Regions from separate parts of the Homo sapiens genome. Here region 1 is linked to region 2. A link means that fine-mapping ties the variant in region 2 to the expression of a gene that starts in the linked region. Tissue or cell type: whole blood. Region 2 holds a variant in brackets; the other region holds the start of a gene. All regions are shown on one strand. Distances are from middle to middle.

Region 1 (4,000 bases), 98 kb after region 2:
CACTTGAGTCAGGGAGGCAGAGTTTGCGGTGAGCCAAGATCTTGCCACTACACTCCAGCCTGGGTGACAGAGTGAGATCCTGTCTCAGACGAAAAAGGAAGCAGCAATTGGAAAATGAAATAAAGGAAGTAAAAATGAAACTAGGTATGATATGATTTTCAAAAGCATTCTTTTAGGGAATGAAAAAAAGCTGATCACGCTGTTTCTGCTGCCAACTTTCTTGTTACGCATGACTCTCAACAACAGGATATTCTGCCCTGTAGGTTAGTTCTTTTTAACGGCCTTATGCAGAAAAAGGTAAACAGAAATCAGCATAAGCTTCTGCCAAAAGAGGAAGAAGGGCTAAATATGACCAGTGCTCAATTATTTTATAGTTTAAAGTTTTTTTATCTCATATTTTAAAATTCAGAAAACAGCCACAAATTTGGGGAATGGGCAGGAATGACAAGCTAATGGAAGGCAAGGATCGCTGAAAAGTCCCGGCATTATAAAGTTACAGAATTTTATCCGTAGATATAATTGCTCTCACCGTCTTTAGAGACTTTCTATCAACAAATCCTGCCACATCTATGTACAAAGTCTACCTTGAATCTATCTACTTTTTCCATTTTGGTCCCCATCCACTCAGTTCAAGTTCACTCCCACCTATTTCCACTGTAGTGGCCTCCTGATTAGTCTCTCTCCTTCTACCCTGGCTCTCCTGCTTCCCATGTCATTCCTTTTCTCTCAAGGAAAGCAAACCATCTTCCTAAAATGCTCATATGATGAAAACCAAAATCCTTCTCATGGTTTCCAGGCACTGCACACTCAGTCCCTTGCTCATTTTTTTCAGTCGCCTTTCAGGTTTCCAACTCTGCTAACATCTTTTTCTCCCTAGTCTTTGCACATACTGTTCCTTCAGTAGGACTGAAATGCTCCTTCTTGCTACCCTACAGGATTCAGTTTTCAAAAAGTTTCCTCAAATCCCTTCTCCCCTAATCTAAATCAGGTCACAATTTGCATTTCTTTGTATGGTATTGGTTTTATCTGTATGACTGAAATGCTCCTTCTTGCTACCCTACAGGATTCAGTTTTTAAAAAGCTTCCCCAAATCCCTTCTCCCCTAATCTAAATCAGGTCACAATTTGCATTTATTTGTTTGGTATTGGTTTTATCTGACTTCCCAACTCTGTTGAAGCTGTGTAACAACTACTTGGAGGCTCATAAAACTATCCTCTCTACTTTTGTGTTTAGTTTATATTTACCATAACATATAAGCTTTAACACTTTTCCTCTGATCCTATAAACTAAAAACAACACTTGTTGCCTGCAATTCTCTTAACTACTTTTTCAAATTTCGTATTTTACAAAGTTTATTTTCCTTTTCATGATTAATTTATTATTGTAACCCTATTAGAGTCATAAAATGCTCTAATTTTTGAATGACCACAGCAGGCTCGACTAGAAGCCCAATGTGCCATCAATTGTGCTATAGAACCAGCTAGAATGCCGTAATTTTAAAGTTCCTAACAAGATGTTGTGGGCAAGAAAATGAACTTGAAATTAACATCAGATAACCTAACAGAAATGTCTGAAGTTCAATTGTTCTGCCACTGTTTTTGCTCCAAAAGTCTTTTATTTGAAAAGGACTCTAGAACAAGGATATAAGACTTCTTTTAGTTCTAGCTTTTACTTTGGATGAATCACTTTCTTTTTTTGTTTGTTTTAAATAATATTATAAAGAGGTTAAGCTCTATATTTTAATTTCAGATATAAAATTCCACAATTTGGAAGAAAAAAAGCACTCAAAAAATACCAATGTTTATTTTTTAATAAAGCAATAATTCAAAACAATTTTTTTTTCTACTCATTCAAAAGGTCATAACTCAGGAGTGCTGTTTATACCAGATGAATCTACAAAGCCAAGAACAGGAATCACCGTATCTCCTTCAGTAGACCTGATACTGTGAGTCTTCTCTTTTCTGTTGACATATTTGTGCAACATGCTGTAGTACTGGCCCTTCGGATTGAAAGTATACAGTGATGAAATTTGCTGCCACTCTTTCATGCTTGGAGTGTTATATTCTTTTGGATGCGAGCCCTCAAAGAAACATTTAATATTCTCTTTTGCCAATTCAGTTGCATGCTCTGTGGCTTTACTTTTAAGGATCTGCTGCTCCTGTTCCAAATAGATTTTCCAGAATTTCAGCTGCAGAAAACTAACTGGAGATAGGCATCGGGTGACAGATGTAAAAATCAGAAGAATGATGATAACAACTGCTATCAAGATCCAGCCCAACACCTTAAGAAAACACAACAAAATAGTAATTTAGTTACTTGGTTTTTTACAAGAAATTTAAAAATCCTCAGATAAAGTTTCAACTACTCGCCAGTTATGATGATGAACAAGCAACAGTTTTAGGTCTTAATTCCTTAAGAGTAAGGTGTCGCAGTAACCTCCCTAGCCCCCCAGTACAACTTCTCGTTTGGAAAGTCAACTGTAGTCCAAGTTATGCACTATGATTCTGCCCAGGGAGGAGCCCATACCATTCCCTTAGAACTCAAAATGTGGAATTTCTGCAAATCCTGGGAAAGAAGTGTTCATTTTAAAGAACCTCTGAGCTTTCTAAGTCCAGTGGTGGCTTTAGAGCCAGACAAACCCATTTTATTCTATAGACCCCTTTAATTCTAACAATTCTGCTTTCTATTGGCTGGGCAAACAACTTTACTTAGACTCAGTGAAGTCACTATATAGGGGAGATACGAAACTATTACTTGTAATGGCAAAACCGCAATTTTGCACCCAACAGAGCTGTTGTGAGACGTAAAAATAATGCAGGAGGTCAAGGGCCTAGCGCAGTATCTGGCACTGAGTAGGCGTGCCCACTCTCACTCCCACTTTCCACGATTCATGTACAGTGCCAGATACTACGGGAATGCGTTTTTCTCCTTTTCATTCGTTTTATTCAGATATTCTCTTGACGGCAAATTAGATGCAAGGAGCCATTCTAGATTTTCTTAGGGTACTGTATATCTGGAGAAAAGTCACCGATTTTTCCCTCACCCCAGCGGCCCTGAGAAAGCTCGGCCTCTCGGCTCCTCCCAAACGCCCCCAGCGCCAGCGGCAGACCTGCGACTGAGCCTTCAGATCCTTCAGGAGGTCCTGCACGTCCGACGCCTTGGCCTGGTTGCACGGCACCAGCGGCAGCTCCGCGGCGCAGCTGCGGTTGCGGCCGAGGCACAGGCGCTGCGCGAAGGCCGCGCTCCCGGTGGCCGCGCACTCGTAAAAGGCGCCCCCGAGCAGCGCCACGGCCACCCAGGTGAGGGGCGCGAGCGCGGCGGCCGCGCTGATTTGCGTGCACACCAGGGAGCCGCGCAGCGCCGATCCGCAACTCGCGCGGGCGCTGGAGCAGCATCCGGTGAGCAGGCGCCACGTGCGTGCGCTCAGCACGTAGCCCAGGAGGAAGAGCGCGAGCGCCGGCACCAGCAAGAAGACCAGGCCGTAGGGCAGGTTCCAGGCGGCGCTGCACGGGCACTGGAATGCCACGGCGGAGAAGATGCGCTCCCCGCCCGCCGTCAGCAGGGTCACCAGGCCGTAGCCCAAGGCGCTGTGGTGCTTGACGTGCAGGTCCAGCACCGCCCGAAACTTCTCCATGAGCCTCGTCCCCCGGGGCGTCGCGCACAGGCCCAGATCCTTCTGCCTCTTCGTTGTCCTGCTTGTCAAATGGTTTTGGTGGGATGGGGACCGGGGCTTTCCACTCTGCGAGAAGCAGCCTTTTTTTTTTTTTTTTTAAAGGGAAGAGGGCTTCTCAGACCTTCCTAAAGTTTCACTTTCTCATTTCAGCCACACCACCTCTGGTTAACAGAACCAGGCAAGCAAACACCCCCAGGACCTTGACTTCTCTGGCACCCACCCCATTCCAAAGGCAGAGGCACCAGTTATCTTCCTCCCCCAATTCAGGAACTCTGACAGAAGGTTGACCTTGTTCCTTTATTACCACCAATCTGACAACGAACCAGG
Region 2 (5,696 bases):
ACCCCAGAGGACAGCCTGATCCGCGGCACACAGTGGAGACCACCCTGGGCCCAGTGCAGCGGCACACCAAGGAAAGGACCTGCTGCTGCCACCACCTCGCCGGCTCCAGGGCTGCAGGTGGGAGCTGGCACTTCCAGCTAGAACACCCCGGCATGCCATGCTGTGGGAAGAGGGTCGAAGAGTGTAGGGATGTGGGGAAGGGAAGAAACGGGTCCCCGCAGTCTGGTCTGGCTCAGGGCACCCCATGCCAATGAGCCCCAGACAATTTCCTAGAAGGAGCTCAAAACATCAGGCTCCCTGATGGCGCGCAGTACTGAATCGCATATTAAATTATTATTCTAGCTCTGCCAGTAATAACTTGGATGAATTTTGCTTTTTGCATTATCTTCCCCATGAAATATAAACCTGTCTCACAGGACAGCATAGGATCTATTAAATCATCATTGGACTAAAGATGCTTATTTTGTAGGCAGCTTTTCCAAATTCAAGTTATTTCAACATGAAAGAATGACGGCAGGCATAAACTTATCAATAATAGGTCACCTATTATCGACTTATGAAATTTGTGCAATCAATAAAACACCATGTAGATCCAGAGATTGATTGATTGTGCTTTCACATTTGCTTTCTCACATTTGAAATGCTAGCATATGTCTACATTATGAAATAATTTATAGTAAATAGTTCTGTTGATGCCACTAACTGACAACTACAGAAGAAAAATATATTTAAATGTTTATTTGCAGCTTAAGGTAAAACATCCACAAATGCCTATGAAGTTTATATTCAGCTCTTTCTGCACTTTAGCACACTGTAAAATATTAGAGCACATTGTATTTTATTCATAAAATATTATATTATAGATATATTTGTTTTCCAGGAGCAACAGTTTTGCCCAAGGCAGAGTGTCAGCACATATAGAATCAGGATGCTTGTGTTAGAAATGACCTAGAGGTCTTAATCCAGGGAGTCTCATTCAACAGGCTTGTGGGCTCATAAGCTCCTGAAGTGTATTGGCTTGTATATTAGCTTCCTATTGCCACTGTAACAAATTACCACAAATTTAGTGTTTAAAACACTGCAAATGTATTATTTTATAGTTCTGTAACTAAAAGAACAGTATGTAGTTACTACTTTTCTGGCACAGGTCAGACACAGCTCTGAGCAGGCTAAAAGCAAAGTGTCAGCAGAGCTGTGTTCCTTCTGGAGGCTCTTGGAGAGAGTCCATTTCCTGGCTTTTTCCAGTTTCTAGGGACTGCCCACATTCTTTAGCTCATGACCCCCTTATCTTCAAAGCCAGCAATGGCTGATAGAGTCTTTCTCAAGCTGCGTAACTCCGACATTTTTTGACACTCCTTTTCTGTTGTCACTTTGCCTTCTCTCTGACTCGGATTCCTCCTACAGTCCTTTTATAAGCACCCTTGTGATTACATTGGGCCCACCTAGAAAATCCAGGATTATATCTTCACATCTCAAAATCCTTACCTTGATCTATCTGCAAAGTCTCTTTTGCCATATTGAGTCACATTCACAGGTTCCAGGGATAAGCATATGGACATCCTCAGGGAGCCATTATTTAGCCTACCACGGTATTGAGAACTCTGAGGTATGTGAGCTGGTGTCTATGTGTATGTACTGGATATGTCCTCAGAACAGCTTCCCCAGAATGGCTCGTCAAAGGGGTCTGTGATTCAAAATGGTTTAATCAACCACCTTTGCAATTTAACCACCCTCTCCTTTCTCGTGGAGGGGAAAATTGAAGTCCCAGAGAGGCTGGCTTGTGCAAGACAACATAAATGATAGGAGATGGTGTTTTCCTGATCCCTGTTTTGACACTTCATAACTATGGCCTACTGAAAATAAATGGACAGATTACAGTAGTGCCATGCCCATGCCATGCATGAGAAAGAGAATACCTGATACTCCAGAGCAGGTTTGTTGTTAGTCTGCGGCTAATAGAATCAGTGCCACTGGCTGTTGGGGAGATCAGGTCCAATGTTATGCCCCAGTGAGAGTGGACAGGTCACTTTGCTAAGAAGCATAGTGCCTTGAAAGTGGGCCCTGATGTATGCAGGTATGATTTAGGTGGAAAGAGAGCGACTTACGTGATATGGCAACACACGGTCAGAGCCCAGGATGTTTCAGTTATTCATCGACAGAAGTATTAGGGATATCCTCCTAACACCTACAAGGCCTTGGAAGATTGATAACGTACCTCATTGCTGTATTCCAGCACAGTGCTGCAGAGTGCAGGGTCCAGGGGTGGATTCTGGCTTCAACCCTTACGTGACCCTTGGCACATTGCTTGATTTCTCTGTATCTCAATTACTTCTCTGTATCTCAGTTACTCAATGAATTAATAAAGAATTAATGTTATTTAATATCATTTCAGCAAGTTACTTTCTAATGGGTGACTATTTGTCACGTGTCCAAAGGTGTAACTAGGATAATTTGTTAAAAGTTACTGGCATACAGAGAGCACTACTTGTTTTTGCTACTACTACTGTCACCACAGATGGGTGCAGACACCTGTTTTGACCACTGGGTGGCAGCAGAGGAAACCATACTTGAAATCCATGCGTTTTGTTTTGTTCCTGAAGTTCTGGTATACTGAAATTACAGAAGCTTAATCATACTTGGTTGTTACTGCAGAAAAATAATCAGGTCAGGAATACTACAGTTTGCCTCTCTGGAAATACCATTTATTGCTCTTCGGTCCAGACGTCACATTTATGGATTTACGCCCCCCAGCTCAAGAAGCCAGTTGCGTAGCAGTCTACGCTCTTCAGCCTGCCAGTATCTGTTCTTTATTGACTGGTACTAAATTTCTGTAGACTCTATTTAGAAGTTAAAGTTGTATCTCCACACCTTATGTTTTCAAGATAGCAAATATCTACCTAGTCTTGCATTCAGAAGGCCTTTGGTTGGCCATGATACTTCAAACTTTTATAGGATTAATGTGATGTCCCTTTGTGATACAAACCAAATGCAAGAAAACAACTAGCAAAATCTCACTGTTGTTTATTACAATCATGCATTAGAATTTCTACAAAAAATGAATGGAAGACTGAGAACAGAGAAAAGAGACACAGAGAAGGACAGAGTATAAATGCGGTTCTACAATTCAGCTTTGGAAAACATAAAGAAAGCTGAGTAAAACACATTTACACATTGGTTTGTATTTGTCTCCTGGGAAGGTGGCAACTTAGGTCATGATGGGACCGTGGAGGAGCTAATGAAATTAAGAAAGGAGCAGGTTTATATATGTCAAGCTCCAGGGTTTGATGTGGTAGCCAAAAGCATTTGGTAGCAAAATATAAAGTAGTATTAGCACATAATTGACTTTAATTATATGTTTTATAATTACATAAATCCATTAAGCATAAAGGGGAGGGAGTACCATGTTCTTAATGAAAAAGTTTCATTTAACTAGCTGTGGAGCAAAAAAATGCTATAGACCATAGCCCCCCCCCCCCCCAAAATACTAAAAATTCCATTTATTTGATCTGAGATAGATAATGTACTGTAAGATGAAATCCCAGGGGTGTGTACTACCTTTTAAATGTTCACATAGATGCTATAAATCATTCTGAAGCCATGTAGAAGAGCCAACGAATACTTAGAATCCTTTGCCAGAAAGTTATAGGGGAAGATCATGATTAACTGGCTCAAAATATAAAATTTTTACATCATACACTAAAAGAGTTTGATGTAGAAGGGCTTCAGAAGCTAGTGGAAATAGTTTCCTGGTATTAGGGTATAAACAACTATTAATCTTCTTTCTGATGATGTAATGCTATAACTTCAAATATTCTTTGATTTTGTTGTTAACCGAAAATCTTATTGAAGAGTCTTTACTGTGGTATAGTTCCTGACAACTAATAAACTAATTCTGAGCATGGTTGAAAGTGTTCATTTAACTAGTATGTTCCAATACAGAAGAA[T/C]ATAAAAAATTATCAGTTATATAGGAACAGAATTTTAGAACTGGAGCAGACCTTAGGGAACAAAATGGATGTGACATTCCATATTTACACAGTTCATTTGTATCAGTGTGGAACTAGAACCCTAGTTGCCTTCCACAACATACTTCTATTTGTATTTTTAACATCCTTCATGTAATGTCATATCAGTACTGAGTGTAGAGTTAGTAGACAAACTGGAATGGCTTTCCTTGATGACTTGAAAAAGATCAGTACATTAACATTCTTTTAAAAGTGGAATGCCAGTAAATGTTTTCAGAGAAAGCTCAGATTCAGAGTTGGGGACATTTTCCTTCCAAGAGAAGCAACGTGGGTCTACTACCATTTCAGAAAGATGTATGCATATTGACCTGTATATATATATAAACATAAACATAAAAATCGTACTTGATGTAAAAGAGACCTTAAGCAGTTATTTAGTTCAGTTATTTTCTTCCAAGAGGTAAAATATTATCATCCCTTTTATTGTATAGATGAAAAAAATCCAGGGTCCAGAGAGATGGACTGATTTGTCCAAGGTCAAATGACAGATGAGTAATGGTGAGGGCAGGACAGTTCTCCTGTCCCAGCAAAGAGCTACAATATGCAGTCTCTTATTGAAGGACAAAACAAAACCTGAAAACATTTTGATTTCTTAAAAATTCATTTTCTGCTTCTTCCTATTAAGTTCAAGGACCCAGAACTTTATAGAAAATAAAACCTTCCATAATTGTGTAAAAGTAGATTACCAAGTAATTGATTGCATTTTAGATAGTATAGTCAAGTTCCTTGGTCTCCTTGAAAGTGAATCTTGAAAATTGGATTGACTATTGGCAGTTGGTCCACTGTCCAGTAAGCATTGTTTTGACTGAAGAAATAAATAGACAGAATGCCCTCAGACAACTTATTTTTGCTAATGAGCAAGTTGCTTCAGTGAACGTAGCAAAAATCAGGCACGAGTCACTATATATCACAGAAATAATCTAGATAAATTAGAAAATTGTCCAGATACTGTAGGCTGCATTTAGTAAAGCCAGGCAGAGCAACACCAAGCAGGAATTATCCTCTTTTGTAGTTACAGATAATGGATATACAAGTACAGACTGCAGTTTTGGTTTCACAAATGGATTTTGAGTGCAAAGGTGCAATTTGGTAATGAAAAGGTACAAATGGTATCTCTGGAGTAGAGCACAGTGGAGAAGCTTTCTAGAAGAAACTTTATATGTAGTGGCCATAAAAATGCTCCTAGTATGGAGGTGCTACAAATAACATGATACTAATAATGATAAATAATATATCATTGTCCCCAGGTTATAGTACAGTAACTCAAGAGCTTCCTGCATGGGCTTCTCCCTCACATGTTACTGGATTAGAAAGAGGTTTCTGTCCTGCTTCCCAAAAGGTCAGATATTTAGGTCTGAAGAAAGAGGGGGAGGCTGTGAAAAGTTCTGGACATTATATAAAGGTAGAAACTGATAAAACCAGAAAATAGAGGCAGGGAAAATGGTGAATAGAAGACATGGAATGCAAAAGAGAAAGAGAGAAAGTAACATTCATTAGCATCTATTTTTATGAAAGACACTGTGCTAAACACTTTGTATTATCATGTTTAATTCTCATAATAGCTCTAGGAGGTAGCTACAATGTGCAGATGACAAAATGGCACTCAGAAATATTAATTTTCACACAGCTACTAAGTAACAGAACTAAGATGCAAATTTCCATGTGACTTCACAT

The links. PIP is the estimated chance that this variant, and not a neighbour inherited with it, causes the effect.
Region 1: it holds the start of CALHM6-AS1, and the variant in region 2 is fine-mapped to the expression of CALHM6-AS1 in whole blood (INTERVAL, PIP above 0.99).

Annotation. Positions count from the first base shown.
Region 1 is chr6:116,461,564-116,465,563 of GRCh38, reverse strand. It overlaps CALHM6-AS1 (CALHM6 antisense RNA 1), which reads left to right and starts at 1,860. Exons shown (of 2, transcript NR_174951.1): 1 at 1,860-1,945. It overlaps CALHM6 (calcium homeostasis modulator family member 6), which reads right to left. Exons shown (of 3, transcript NM_001010919.3): 2 at 3,110-3,692; 3 at 1,793-2,281. The coding sequence starts at 3,634. The coding sequence ends at 1,859. RefSeq lists a silencer at 3,124-3,203 and enhancers at 3,584-3,663, 3,674-3,783.
Region 2 is chr6:116,558,433-116,564,128 of GRCh38, reverse strand. CALHM4 (calcium homeostasis modulator family member 4) reads right to left here. Exons shown (of 2, transcript NM_001366078.2): 2 at 3,002-5,696. Among named protein-coding and RNA genes, the nearest start is that of CALHM4, 7.5 kb to the right of the region's middle. The variant T/C (reference allele first, on the strand shown) is at 3,945.